Regions from separate parts of the Homo sapiens genome. Here regions 1 and 2 are each reported to be linked to region 3. The links are microRNA targets in miRTarBase. Many come from high-throughput screens and were not tested one by one. Region 3 holds a microRNA gene; each other region holds the end of a gene's coding sequence.

Evidence for each region. Region 3 holds the annotated microRNA hsa-miR-548aq-5p (GAAAGUAAUUGCUGUUUUUGCC, at 3,198-3,219, shown strand). A microRNA usually pairs through its seed, bases 2 to 8, with sites in the 3' UTR of a target mRNA and lowers its output. Matches are read on the target gene's strand: a 7mer-m8 pairs with bases 2 to 8, a 7mer-A1 pairs with bases 2 to 7 and ends in A, and an 8mer does both.
Region 1: miRTarBase lists TM9SF3 as a target of hsa-miR-548aq-5p. Seed matches in the 3' UTR shown: 7mer-m8 at 3,661-3,667 and 7mer-A1 at 2,408-2,414.
Region 2: the mRNA of TM6SF1 is a reported target of hsa-miR-548aq-5p. Seed matches in the 3' UTR shown: 7mer-m8 at 3,584-3,590.

What each region holds. Positions count from the first base shown.
Region 1 is chr10:96,518,154-96,523,153 of GRCh38, forward strand. TM9SF3 (transmembrane 9 superfamily member 3) reads right to left here. Exons shown (of 15, transcript NM_020123.4): 15 at 1-4,177. The coding sequence ends at 4,110. Among named protein-coding and RNA genes, the nearest start is that of TLL2, 6.7 kb to the left of the region's middle.
Region 2 is chr15:83,135,794-83,140,793 of GRCh38, reverse strand. TM6SF1 (transmembrane 6 superfamily member 1) reads right to left here. Exons shown (of 10, transcript NM_023003.5): 10 at 3,386-4,313. The coding sequence ends at 4,122. HDGFL3 (HDGF like 3) reads left to right here. Exons shown (of 6, transcript NM_016073.4): 6 at 1,519-5,000. The coding sequence ends at 1,524. Among named protein-coding and RNA genes, the nearest start is that of TM6SF1, 31 kb to the right of the region's middle.
Region 3 is chr3:185,765,955-185,771,101 of GRCh38, reverse strand. It overlaps MIR548AQ (microRNA 548aq), which reads left to right and starts at 3,198; the gene lies at 3,198-3,255. The region is part of intron 2 of IGF2BP2 (insulin like growth factor 2 mRNA binding protein 2); the gene reads left to right. RefSeq lists enhancers at 795-1,295, 1,296-1,796.

The DNA of each region.
Region 1 (5,000 bases), not on the chromosome of region 3:
AATTAACACACTAGGTTAGAACCTCAATTGTATTTGATACATTATATACTGGATTTCTATTACTAAAAAGCCAGTTGGAATATGGCCTATACGAACCAAAGAGTGTATACAAAATGGAAGTGGTCATCAGGCAATAATTGTTTCCTTGGAACTCTGCACCGACTGTCCATGCTCTGTGGGGACTTACACATTCAAGTTTGACAGTTGAAAAACCAACTGGAGCTGCTTTTCCAAGAATGTTCTGTTGTCCTTCAAATAGAATTCCATGTTATTTCTTTCTTGCCTTAAGCTCTTATATCTTTCAAATGACCTAAGCTGATGAACTGGAGTAAACACAAACTGCTGCAGTTATCAATTAGCAAGCCTAGTTCACCAATACTTCAAAATAAACAGACTTCACAAGTTTATTTCCATTCCTAACAGTGGAATAATAACTTAATTTTGTTTACTTTTGTCTTTGTAGATTTCTGTCTGCAGCTCCAGTAAGAATGCCAAATCAGATGGCTTTTAGGAAATGCTCATAGGAGAGAACTAGAGTTATTCCTCACACTGAATTTAAGTCTTACCAGATTTCTGCAGGTTCATATGTTAACGTTCTGATCTAGCCTACCTGTAAGTCTAGTTTATTTCTGTACACACTTCCAAATACTCTTCATAAATTTTCACTTCTGACTGAAATATAACACCTTGATTGATAGTTTCATAACTATAGAATTTTAGTGAAGATATAAAACATTAATGAATACTTGTGTTTTAATACATCACTACTCCTATTTATTACATGTTCCAATAAACCAATAGAATGAAGCACTAAGACACGGTGAAATCTAAACTTAAAACCCAGATGGAACTGCCATATAGATTACAAATGGGTCTCCCCACCACAGAATTCATATACAAAAGCCCTTCGGTATGTAGCTTTTCCTGAACAAATACATTAATACACTTTTTGTTTTTTACATTTGTAAAAATTCAAGGTTTTAATAACATTTCTTTGCAAGACATTTGGTATAAGGTGGTTAATAAATATTAGGAAACAAACACTGTACCAAAATGGATATGACTTGTGAATAAACCCTAAATAAAGTGGCTTTTGGAAGAACTGGATTTTGCAGCAACCAACTTTATAAAGAGGTCCATCCACTCTCAATGGAAAACACCCAAGCATACCATTCACTAGGTTCGGATATCACCATAATATAATGAATTCTAAGAGTATGGGGTTTGATTTATGGGCAACCCCAGTACAATCTAGGAGCCCAACATGATGAAAAATACTAAAAGAATGCTTCACCATCCCTCAGGCCATTACATTTCCACCTTATCCTACTCTTGTATTAGGATATATGTATACAAATGTCAACTACTAATGTAGTTAAATTTCAGGAGAAGCATGCTTAAAGATACACAAGGAATGTTTAGCCTTAGTTTTTGATAGTATTATCCAAAGTGTGAGTTGAAAGAAATTAAGCAAATAATGTTAACAAACGAAAGACAGATACACAGCATTAGTGGGGGTATAAAAACCTCACCTTTCAATTAACTTGAATAATGTTCTATTTTCTATTCTACAACTGAGCGCTAGGGAGCTAAACTATTTGTGAATTACATCTTCTTTAAGAAGACACACACACACGCACACACATACATACACTTATTCAACCCCTCTATGCAGCCAAAAACCAATACAAGTCCTTTTCTAAAAGACTTTAAAGGTGATTAATATTCATTTAATGCTCTTAATGTATTTGGAAATCAGAAAATTATTTTTCACCACAGATTCCAAAGAACTTCAAATAGAGCTCAATTTAGTAGAAAGAATTGGTGTACCTGAAAGCATTTAACCCACACATTTTCAATAAACCCTACATCTTACCTGCAAGATTCATATCATGAGAAACAAATTTCATTTTATTAAGACAAAACCTTACTGTCCAATTTATACTCCCATCAGACAGACTATGTATTGGTATGTTAAAAGTACTTTTGAATAAAAGTGGTGAGAAAGAAACCAAAAAAGTACTTTATATATAGTTAAAAGGTTACATAATATAGGCAACTAAATATTAACTTTTAGTTTCTTTTTTATAAGATCTTAAAGGCAAGTAAGAAGGAAGAGAAAATGGAAGTACCAATAAATTATATTTAATATACCATTTTGGCTTCAGAAGAGGATTTACCTACAGCTTCTGATCAAATTTGTTGGATCATATCAATCATACTTAAGTGGTAAGAAATCATACTTTTCACCTTTTAAAGGACTTACATGTCACAATATAGGATGTAGAGTCCATCAATAGATAGGTACATATTTTGTAATGAAAACATCTTGTGTAACTATTAATTGCATGATTTTCATATTAAGGTTTAAATACAGGTGTTTTGAGTCTTTCTAAAAATAACAATATAAAGTATTGTTTTAGGTGGTCATTTGCATAGCAAACTATTAAACTAGAAACTCAGTGGTTCTAGGAAAACTTCATATTATGAATAGTTCCAGAAAAATGTATTCAAATCACTTCTCTTACAAAACTGTAACCTTTATTTGTTGATCCAACAGTACGTTAACCACTTTTACCCCATCCCCACTTTACACGGTACACCAACCTGAACAGATTTTGTGCCACAATTTCATTCAAAGGGTTTGTCATTCACTTTATGATTGTGCTGGATAATCTAGATGTAAGCAAGTCTGGAGATTTTAAAATACGGGTCCCCTGTATGAGAGTAGCATAGTTTATAGCATACTTTTAAAAATGGCATTCGGTAATTTTGCCTTCTGGACAGAAAGATATCTTCAAATTGCAAACACATCTATTTCCACAAAACAATTTGGTCAGGAAATTTTATTTGAACATTCTAAAGCAATAATGCTTTAGATGTTACTTAAGTGTCCCAGACAGGATTAACAAAATTAAGTGTCTCTAAATTACAAATTTGGCTCCTGTAGGAGTCTCAGAAAATAAACAGAAGAAAACAACCCCCCTCCCAAAAGAAGTATGACACACACATTTTGAAGAAACCCCAATGTTTCATGCAATGGTAGGCAAGATGTAAAAGCCCACCCAAATCACACATTTCTACACCAATCATCATAAGAAAAAAGTACTCTGTAGTCGATCTGTACATCCAAATGCATTTGGGAATCTACACCTACGTTACATTATTTAATGTTATATACATTTATTACCCACCCCCCTTGTTTTTAATAATTTCTTATGTAAAACCTTCATTCAAACCCAAAAGATTTAAGACTAACTTGGGGGGAAAAAAGATAATCACTTTAGACATTCAGTTAAAATGTAGTTTATCTAAATCTCAAAATGTTTAATAAAAACAAGTATCTTCTCCATTTAACACTTTGCTTTCTAACTGTACAGTAAATTGCATTGTAGAGAGTACACTTCTGTCTTCAAACTGTATCTTCTTTGGATGGAATTAAGATGTAACTGTATAGTTTTAAGATAAATAAATGGGAAGTTGGTCCAACTAAGATGACAGCAGATATATTACATGCAGGATTTAATATTTTCTAATTCTCTCTTTTAAAAAAAAGGATGCTGTTGGATTGGGAAAAAAAAAAAGTCAAAAAAGAACCCAGATTCAATATATAAAAATGTCCCACAATAGGTCGACAATGGCAGTAAAAATAAGAGGAAAAAAGTAATCTTTCTGGAACATCATTTTTCAATAACATAGAAACACTAAGTGCCAGGAAGATTCCTATTCATGTAATTTTAGCATCCAAGTTTCCCTCTATTTATTTTATTGGAACAAATGCTTTAAATAAACTATTTGTCCTCTTCACTGAAGAGAGCTGGTCTATTTCATCTTTAATGAGCTAGTTTTTGGGAAGATTAGCCATGTACTGTAGTAATGCCTACTGCATAAAATCCAAGCATTTGCTGTGAACAGTTGGAGAAAGCAGTCAGGAAGAACCTAGGATCAATGGAAATAGATGTTACTTTAAGCCACCGACGAAAGAGAGACCCACAAAGTACCCAGTGTGTTAAAGCCCAAATCTCTTCTTGCGTTTGTTTGTTTTTGCTGTGCAAGTTCCACCCCTATGAAAAAGAAATTGATCCAAAGTTCCAGGTTTTCTTGGGTCTCTAGTCAATTTTCACATTAGTATAGATTTTTCGGACAAAGGCACTTGTTCCCATGTAACCAATCGCTCCTGCAAAGATAAAATAAGATGTTTTGAAACAAATACATACAGAGCAGTATCCATCATTTAAAAACACTAAATACTCTATGCTCTGGAAAGTTATTCTTTTTTAAAGAAAATATCCTTATGTTAGTATTCTCTCTGAACTTACTAAAACTGTATCATTTGCTTTGCAAATCACCTGATACCATAATACACTGAGTCTGACCATCATACGCCAAGTCTAATCAAGTAGCAATTATTTCTTGTATAATCAGTAACTACAGAATTAAAATACATCTCTTATAAAGCAAGAATAATTTGATAATGGCAAAAGGTTGTTAAATCAAAAAACATGCCTTCTTTGATTTGAAGATATACTATTCTAGGTCATTAAAGTAAAAATCAATATATCTTCCCAAAATCCAATAGATAAATAGTTAGAAGTGACTGAAAATTCTCTTAAGGAAGGACAGGGAACCATGTCCCAATAGCAGTTGAAGCTCTAGAGAAGAGGCATTTTCTGACAGCTTCTTTTTTATTTTTAAGTTGTAGAAGCTGTGTAGTTGGTAGTAGGGATGACATATTTGCGGGAATAGACAGGACAGAGAGGTAAGTGGGTCAGAAGTTTTGAAATGTTGTTTTTTAACAATTAGCCTCAACCAGAGCTTAAAACACCAGAAATCAGGGATGTTTGTTTTGTTAAGTAAAATATTTATCTCCTGTGTCTAAAAGAGTGCCTGGCATATAAGATACTTGGTAAATATTTGTTGAATGAATGAATGAACTAGATGGTTCTTTATTGCAAATATAGGTTGGTGCAAAAGTATTTGCAGCTTTACAATTACTTTTG
Region 2 (5,000 bases), not on the chromosome of region 3:
AAGAAGGTTTCGGCCAGGCACGGTGGCTCACGCCTGTAATCCCAGCACTTTGGGAGGCCGCCGAGCCAGGCAGATCACAAGGTCAGGAGTTTGAGACCAGCCTGACCAACGTGGTGAAATCCCATCTCTACTAAAAATACAAAAATTAGCCGGGCATGGTAGCACACACCTGTAATCCCAGCTACTCAGGAGGCTGAGGCAGGAGAATCACTTGAACCGGGGAGGTGGAGGTTGCAGTGAGCTCACATCACGCCACTGTACTCCAGCCTAGGTGACAGAGCGAGACTCTGTCTCAAAAAAAAAAAAAAAAAACTTTCTTTGGTTGACTAACAATTTTTCATTGTTCTAATGGGTGTCTTCCTCCTTCACAAGGGAGGAAGATCCTCCAAAGTATCTGTGAGTATAATCTTATAACTGGTGTTTTTGTTAAGAAATAATTAGGAGTCACCAGGCACTCCATTTTTTAAGTTCACAAATTTCAAACTTTTTTTTTAAAGATTTACTTCCTCATTTTAATAGGGACAGAAGGATAAAAAGTATATTTCTGCCATCTTAGGGGGATGGAAGTTTTGGTAACTCTCTCTCCTTTGAAGGTCCTGGAATCGTTTATTATAATATATACCATTTAGTATACATGTTGGGCTGTCTGAATGAGAACATACCCATCAGTGTGCACATGTGCTTACAAACATGTTCATTCATTTAGTGAAATTAAGAGTGGAAGCAGGCTGTTTTCAGAAAAAATATTTGAGGGCTGAGTTCCCTCTTTCATTCATCCCATGAGGGTATTACTAGGGGGTTTAATATATTTGGGTTAATGATGAGGGGGAAAAAATAGCATCCTTTTGGGGAAATAGAACCAGACACAATTTAAAGTGGGACCCAAATAGAAACATAATTCTTTTATGAAACAAATGTTTTATTTTCTGTTTGTCACACGGATGCCATCTAAATTTTAAAAGAAATCTAGGCTTCCTCTTATTCTTTATGTTTTTTTTAAAAGCAAGAAGTCAGAGACTTTGTACATCATGATTAACTTCTACATTTGTTTGAGCTATGTGTCACAAGTAATTAAGTTATAAATATTCTGAAGATTAATTGGTGCACACTCTAAGTGCTTTTTAAATTTTACACAGCTTACCTTTCTTTCTGAAGAATGTCCTCACAAAGATAGATTATATCAATTTCTCCACTGATGATGTATTCCAGCAATAAACATAGTCCTAGAATTGTAGAATGTGCACTGCTGCACTCTGTCCTAACAGACAGTAGACAAGGTTTATAATTTTTTTCTATGGGACACTAAAAATACCCTAGGATTTCCTTTAACTTTTTGCACTGACAGGTCTAAAGCAAAGCCACAGAAGCTGCTCTTGCTCAGTAAGTATTGTTAATGCTGCAGTGCATATTAAAATTTCAGAAAACCCAATTATGTACTATCTAGGTGTGGATAGCTCTCATTGTTAGTATCCTAAATCATCTAAAGGCTTGTTTTCTTTCTTTTTTTTTTTTTTACAGACCTAACTACCATAATGAATGCTGCATATTAAGAGAAACCACAAGAAGGTTATATGTTTGGTTGTCTAATATTCTTGGATTTGATATGAACCAACACATAGTCCTTGTTGTCATTGACAGAACCCCAGTTTGTATGTACATTATTCATATTCCTCTCTGTTGTGTTTCGGGGGGAAAAGACATTTTAGCCTTTTTTAAAAGTTACTGATTTAATTTCATGTTATTTGGTTGCATGAAGTTGCCCTTAACCACTAAGGATTATCAAGATTTTTGCGCAGACTTATACATGTCTAGGATCCTTTTATCAAGGCAGTTATGATCATCGTTTTCCTGCCTTGACCCCACCATCATCAAACACTCAGTTAAATATAAATTAACATTTTTTAGATGACCACTCAACATAATGCTTAAGAATGGAATTTCCTCTCTGTGACAGAACCCAGGAATTAATTCCTAAATACATAACGTTGGTATATTGAAGACGAAATTAAAATTGTCCTTCAGTTTTGAGGCCATGTGTAAAGTTTAACCATATTGTAAAATATCTATTCCGTATTAGAAATAGCTAGTTGACAGCTTATACTTCTCAAAATTCATATTGTTATGTACACAAACTAAGTTTCTATATGTGAAGTTAGTGAGTCTTTTTGTGTTACTCCAAAATAAAGGCAATGATTTATTTTTTTCCCAGTGCCAATACAATTTTGAGCTAAGCACTCAAGGTGGATACTTTACATTTTAAAGCTGGAATCAGCAACAGCCCTATGGGAAACCAGACAAAGCATTGACTTTTAAATGTAGACTTTTAAAATAAACTGTTTTCTTTTGGAACTACAATTAGAATAGTTAATATTCATCCTTAAACCATTATTATGTGTACATTATTGTTGCTATTGTGATAATAGAGAATTTTATTTATTTTTATGCCAGCTTATATTGTGAGAACACATTTAGTCAGTTTGGGTTTTATCAATCCTGTTAATGCTTGTCCTTGGAACATCTTTCGCGTATTCACGGTTTGTAGTTGAAAAGTTTACTGTAAAAAAATCAAAAACAAAAAAATGTATTGTTTTTACAGAATAAATTTATTGGAATGTGTACTGGGAGTAAGATTTGAGGTTGTAAGCAAACTAAGTTAGTGTAATTTGGCTTCATATATGTAACGTGAGGTATTAATGTAATTCATATATTAAAGCAAAAATTGTTCACAGCAAGCTGACAATAGAATCAAGTGCAGGTGAGGGTTTTTCTTTTTCTTTCTTTTTTTTTTTTTAAACACTCTCTGGGTTTTAGATTATTTGAAAACACTGTAGGGGATGATGGGGAGATGACTACATGATTTGCTTACACTTACATATTTACCAGCCCAGTGGACCCTAGATTTTGTAATTTGATATTATCCATGCATTGATTTGTATCCCATTTTCTTTTGGTTTTCTTGATGAGAGCTAATAAAAACATGAGAAAATGTGAGCAGACCTAAAAGCCTAGGGCCGTTAATAATGATGATGGTGATGATGGCAGCTAAGGGTATGAAAGCACCAGTCCATTTATCATTCCAGGGCACAGTGAGGAGGTGGCTGTTTGTATTTTTGGTGTGTTTCTTTCATTTAGTGAATACTGATTTTCTCTAGTATACTCAACATACAATCCCAAACATGAAAAGTTCATAAAAAGATAGTAGGGATGTCGATCTAATACTTCTTCCTTAAAAGGTCCTTTTTAATTTTGAATATTTGAATGTATTTTTTAATTAATGAAATTTAATTCATCAAAAGACCTCTTCATTGCTCACACTGAAACATAAGGGGAATGTAGATGGCATTTTGAATTGGAATATACAACTCACAAATTTTCTTTAAAAGCGTTTTATGTGTATATATGAAATGTTTCAAATTTAATAAGATTTGTCTTTATAAGAGGCCAAAAATAATTTTATTAAAAATATACACAGAAATACAATAGAAATATTTCCAGCCACCAATAAAACAAATGTTCATTAAGGATAGAGATAAAGTTACTGATCCCTATTTAGCTGTTTAAATTCACACAAAAAAATTTAGTAAAAGTAATTTTCTTGAAACAGCAGCAAATAATAAACTTTCCTTGGGAAAACATTTTTCAAACAACATTTAAAAATATTCTGATGATTTGCCTTTTATATTGAGTTTAATAATGAAGCATATTCATCTTATTTGCAAAAGTTACTCCTCCAGTCTGCATTCACTGTTTTGAATTTTTTAATATGCACAGGCCATATTCTCTTTTGAATAGTTTCATTTCATGCTCACTACTGTTGGCACTAAATTGTAATTTTTTACACTTATAATTATTTTATATGTCAAACAATATTGAGATGGATGATCAAGTTTATTCACAAATGATTTTGAATATATTTCTTTAAACAAACTGTTTCTCAAGAATTTCCATTTTCCTTCAAAAAAAATTTACACAATACCATATAGCTCACACATACAGTGCAGAGCAAGAATGTACATATTCTTAAGTACTCACGTATGAGAAGAGAGTGAAATGGGACAAAATATCAGTACCAGTATAACAAAAGTTAGTAATTTAGAAAGGAGGAACATGAAGTAATATTTTTATTCCACTTTTTCTTCTGCCTTTGTTTTTATGAAGAACTCTGGTTTGTAGATACAACGATAGGCCAAGAGCTGAGGAAGAACTCCATATGCTATGTTTAATGCTAAAAAAAGGATTTTTGCTTCTTCAGGGACTCTGTAGACATAAGCAGTTCTAGCATGAAGAGATGCACCAATGTGAGAAAACTGAGCCTGTTGCATTTAAAAAAAAAAAATTGAGTAAGCATGAAACGTGTTCAGTTGGATGCATGATGAGTTCTGAATGGTTCATTCAGGCTACGTTTCTGTGCCCTCAAAACCAGTCTCACCTGCAGGCAAAATACCTTCAAACAATCCAGAGTCTTTAATGTCAGAGTCTTTCATTAAATTTAGTCCTTGATTAAATTTAGGGCCATTCTTGATATGACTGTTCAAATAAAGTAGATATTATTTAGTGTAGTTTTATCATGCCAGTTGTGTTTTTTAACCATCAAGTGCCCCTTACCGAACATTAGTGGCTCAATCTAATAGAAAAATCTGAATAAAATCTCAAATTTTTTTCTGATTTGCGTTCTGGAGATCCTGCATACAGACTCAGTTGTGGTTCACAAATTGCGTTCCAATAAAAATGAAGAAAGCGCAGAGTTTTAAAAAACAAATATTTTTAGCATAAACTATTGAAAGGGAAGCACTGGGGGGACCTCAGCTTCATTTATCAGTCTTTCATCTACTCCTTGCAGCAAGAGCTCATACCCTTTCCCTATGTGTTTTTTGTTTATTCATTTATTCATGTATTTGTTTTTTCTGCAGCTTTTAAAATATTAAGGGTTGTTTGTAAGATAAGGTTGTTACCAACTTGGGTGGAGGTAGGAGTACGGTTGCTCTTTGTAAAATGGCAAA
Region 3 (5,147 bases):
TTGTTTACTTTTTAAGTTCTGTGACTGTTCTTTGGATTTTTAAAAGCCGTTTGCTGGGTGCCATGGCTCATGCCTATAATTTCAGCATTTTGGGTAGCCAAGGTGGGAAGATTGCTTGAGGCCAAGAGTTCAAGACCAGTCTGGGCAACATAGTGAGTCTCCCTCTCTACCAAAAAAGGATAAATTAGCCAGATGTGGTCATGCACATCTGTAGTCCTAGCTGCTAGAGAGGCTGAGGTGGGAGGATTACTTCAGCCCAGGAGTTTGAAGCTGCAGTGAGCTATAATTGTGCCACTGCACTCCAGCCTGGGCAACAGTGAGACCCTGTCTCTAACTAAAAGACAAATAGAACAGAAACCTTTCCACAAGATCATCTATTACAGTCTCTTTGTGCTGCTCTGACTGTGACTGCCTAGAGGGGCTCCTCCTCTCATAATTTGTATGTGCTGGTAATTAAGGCACCTCCACCTTGGGTGTCACAGGTGCTATGGGAAACATAACAGACTCTGGGTGAGTCTTGAGTCTGTTACCAATTTTCCAGATTACACAGGCAAGCCATTTAACTTCTCAGTCTTTTTAAAATCTGGTGCCTTGGAATAAAGGCCTATGGGGTCATAACCAAAGGAGCAAATAAGATGCTTGTGAAAATACTTTCCAATGTATAAAATCCTTTTTAAATATAACCCACTACTCTTTCTCACTCTGACATGGTGAATCTCTGTTCGTTGGTTTTGCTTTTCCTATCACATCCCATTTTCCTTGAGAGAACTGGAGTTTCCCGTAAATCACCAGATATGCTCCCTCGGGTTGGCCGGTCCTGCTCGACCAGTCCTGAGTCCTAACTATGTGGTGTGCTATGACAGAGCAAGGGTAGAGACTTCATTTTTCTGATGTAAATTACACGCCCGCCACCACATCCCTTCTTATGAGACGTAGATTCTGTTGACATAGGAGCCTAAGAGAGAGACCATCCCCCAGTTCTGCTTCCTTGAGGACATAGAGAGAAGGCTCAGGATTCGTTTCCCTTCCAGGGGTTCCCAGATCTTATTGGGTTTGTGTGGGCCTCTGGTCCCCAGGGGCCGAACTTTGGGAAGAGGGATACAGTGGCTGCTGCTATAGGCAGTTGGCACTTCTTTAGAGATAAAATGTGAAAAGATGGTTTGTGGATTTTGCCTAATAGATAGTAAGCATGACAGAAACACAGACCTCTTGGTTCATGTGGTTTTGTGACTGAGATGAAATTGTTTCTTTTTTTTTTTTTTTTTTTTTTTGGAGACAGGGTCTCATTCTATCATCCAGGCGGGAGTGCAGTGGCAGTGACCACAGTTCACTGCAGCATTGACCTCCTGGGCTCAATCGATCCTTCCACCTCAGCCTCCTGAGTAGCTGGGACCACAGGTGTGCATCACCATTAATTAAAATTTTTTGTAGAAATAGGATCTTGGTATGTTGCCCAGGATGGTCTTGAACTCCTGGGCTCAAGCTATCCTTCTGCCTCAAACCTCCAAAAGTGTTGGGATTACAAGCGTGAGCCACCGTGCCAGGCCATTTCTAATCTTTGGAGACCATGATTTCTCTGTCTGTAAAATGCACTTGAGAGCAAATTGAAGAGTGGCCTTTGAGCTGAATACCTTTACTTGGTTATGGCATTCACTATTTAAGAGTTACAGGTTCTTCTGAGTGTTTGCTGTCTCTTTATAACTTCCGTTTTAAACAATAGATTCACCTTTTTTTTAAAAAAAATTTGGAGACAGGGTGTCATTCTGTCTCTTAGGCTGGAGTGCAGTGGCATGATCATGGATGTCTCATTGCAACCTCAAACTCGAGGGGCCAAGTCCTCCTTCCACCTCAACTCCTTGGCCTAATCCATCCTCCCATCCTCCTCAGCCTCCCCATGCTCAGCTAATTTTTAAAAATTTTTATAGAGGTGGGGGTTTTGCTGTGTTGCCCAGGCTGATCTCAAATGCCTGGCCTCAAGTGATTCTCCCACCTTGGTCTCTCAAAATGTTGGGATTACAGGCGTGGACCACCGCGCCCCGCCCAGGTTCAACCTTTTTTTTGTTTTGATTTGTTTTGAGACGGAGTCTCACTCTGTCGCCCAGGCTGGAGTGCAGTGGCGTAATCTCAGCTCACTGCAATCTCCACCTCCCAGGTTCAAGCAATTCTCCTGTCTCAGCCTCCTGAGTAGCTGGGACTACAGGCGCATGCCACCACATCTGGCTAATTTCTGTATTTTTAGAAGAGATGGAGTTTCACCATATTGGTCAGGCTAGTCTCCCTGACCTCAGGTGATCCACCCGCCTCAGCCTCCCAAAGTGCTGGGATGACAGGCGTAAAAGCCACCACGCCTGGCTTAGATTCAACCTTTTAAAGGTGCTTATTGATCTATCAGAAGCTTCAAAGTGAAAGCATGATACTCCACCACTAGAGGGCAGTGCTGTCCTAGTCACATGATCTGAATCTACAAATTGCTGAATTTGAAGCTTCCTTCAGTCCTCCACAGAATTAGACAGAAAATTTATATCATTTTTATATGTATTAAGTATATACATATTCAAAATATAATTTAAATATTTAAGTAGTATTAAAGGACCTTTTAAAAATACTTAGATTGACTTAAAAGGGTTAACATGCAGTTCTTTATCATTATCATATTCTTTACCAAGTTAAACTGAATCCCACAGAAAAAAATCTATCCTGAAGGTTTGTAGTTCATCATCAGCCCTCGGGTTAGCTCAGCATCGTGACACCTCTAACTACATACTCATGTCGCCCAGGTTCTTCACTGTTTCACTTACAGGGATGCCATGCATCTGGCTGAGGATGTTTTAATTAACAATAGAGATACTCTTGGGAAAGTTCTCAACTTTCCTTTTTCCTTTTTCTGTAGGAGGTAAAGAGCTAAATAAATGTTTATATAGTGTCATGATGCCACTAAGAAAATAACAGCCCCTTTGTCTCTTTTCCCTCAATCATAAGGAAGTTATGACCTGAATAGAAAGACAAAGCAGTACCCTTCTGTGTTTTTCTCAAGTGAGAACATTTTTTTCTTTTGCATAAAGTCACAAAAGTGTATATAAGGGCTGAGGATCTGGTAATTGTCCACATTTCAGATTTTTTTAAGGAAATATTCCTAGAAGTATAATTGGATTAAAGAGTAATATAAGGATTAAGACACTTGCTATTTAGGTTGGTGTGAAAGTAATTGCTGTTTTTGCCATTACTTTCAGTGGCAAAAACTGCAATTACTTTTGCATTAACCTAAAATAATCATTGCCAATGCTTTCCAAAATGGCTGCACTAAAATATATCCCCTGAACAGTACATGAAATCATTTTCAACCCTAATACATTCCATAATTTCACCCAACATATTCCAGAATTGTATTCCTCATTTCAGCAGCCTTATTTTAAAATATTTTATAATTATAAACTTTTTTTTCCAAGTAGAAGGTATGTTGATCAATATTTCCCCAAATATATTACTGTACTGGTAAGACATATTAAAAAATGGTTCAGTGGTCAAATACATTTTTCAAATGTTGTATACTTGTCCCTTTCTTGGAGATTTGTGAAGCACACATGCATTTTAAGGCTCTGAGAAGTCCTGTAGTAAAGAAATCTGTTTAACTTGATGTTTTATAATTTATTTACATAACTACAGAATCCTTTAACATCTTATGGAAATGGGATTGGATTTTAGAAGATAGTAATGATGGTGGGAAGTTGTTCTGGAAGGTTTTAGGAAACACTGTAGTATTATAAGGATTTCTTCTGAACTTGTGTTGGTCTCTGGTCATCGTTGTGGAGAACAGAATCCACAGAGTAGCTAGATTAAGCACAAAAGAATGCATTGAGGTATATAGATAGATCACAGAATTGTCGGACAGGCTGAAGAAACAGGCTGCAGGTGGAGCTTCTTGATAGTCTGCAGAACTGGTCTGCCAAGAGAGCTGTTGCCTATGCCACCATCGAGAAGCTTCTCCCACAACTGCCTCTGCCAGATTGGGAAGCCACTGGGTCCACAGTTGTGTGTCTCTATCCTAGCAGGAAGTGGGGCTGGGCAGTTTGTTTTCAGTCCTATTTTAGGAAGGAGGGACTTTACACTAAGGTGAACTATCAAATGTGGAGAGAATGTCTAAAAGACGGCAGCTACAATTAGCAGGCATCCAAGAAGACAGCTGTGTGTTGTGAACACCTTGGGATATAGGTCAGAAAACTGGGGTGTAGCCCTGGCCTTGCCTCTTAACTGCTGCATGACCTTGGGCAAGTCCACTTTCAAACTTGCGATCTCATCTCTAAACAGGATATAACTCACTGACTTGGAGTGAAGATAAAATGAAAGTAATAGGTGTGAATATACCAGGGAAAACTATAAAGTATTAAATGAAATCAGTAAAAAGTATTTTTCACAACCCAGGTTTGTCTCTAGACCAGGGGTTGGCAAACTTTTTCTGTAAAGCACTAGCTAGTAAATATTTTTGGCTTGTTAGATGATACTATCCCTTTAGTACCTATTCAACTCTGCAAGAGCAGCCATAGACAATATGTAAATGGATGAGCATGGCTGTGTTCCAATAAAACTTTATTTATGGACACTGAGATTTGAATTTTGTATAATTTTCACATGTCACGGAATATTCTTTTTATTTTTTTTCCAACCATTTAAAAAAAGGGAAAAACATTCTTAGCTTGTAGACTATACAAAAACAGGTGGCTGGCTGGATTTGACCTATCAACCGTAGTTTGTTGGTCCACGTTCTAGATCATTATACTTAAAATATTTTAAAATGTATTTAAATTTAAATTTAAAATATTTTAAATTGTTTTGCCTTAATGTAGTGGCAAATAAATTTGGGGCTTTGATGATATTGTCTAAATAGTTTTATTGCTATTCACTGGACCTGGTAGTAGCTTCCTCTTTGATAGTAGAATTAAATATGCTTAGTGGCCGTGTATAGCACCTTGGGCTTTATTTAGGTGAAAGCATCCCGAGAAGGATGAGTTTGCTACCCAGCCATCGGGTTCTTAGAACCTCCACATTTTCTCCCATCTTCATGTGTGCCTTTGGTTTTGGAAAAGGGATGGGGCAGTCAGATACTTCTTTTATGGGAAAAGTTGCATTTGGAGACATTCCCATACCCATGC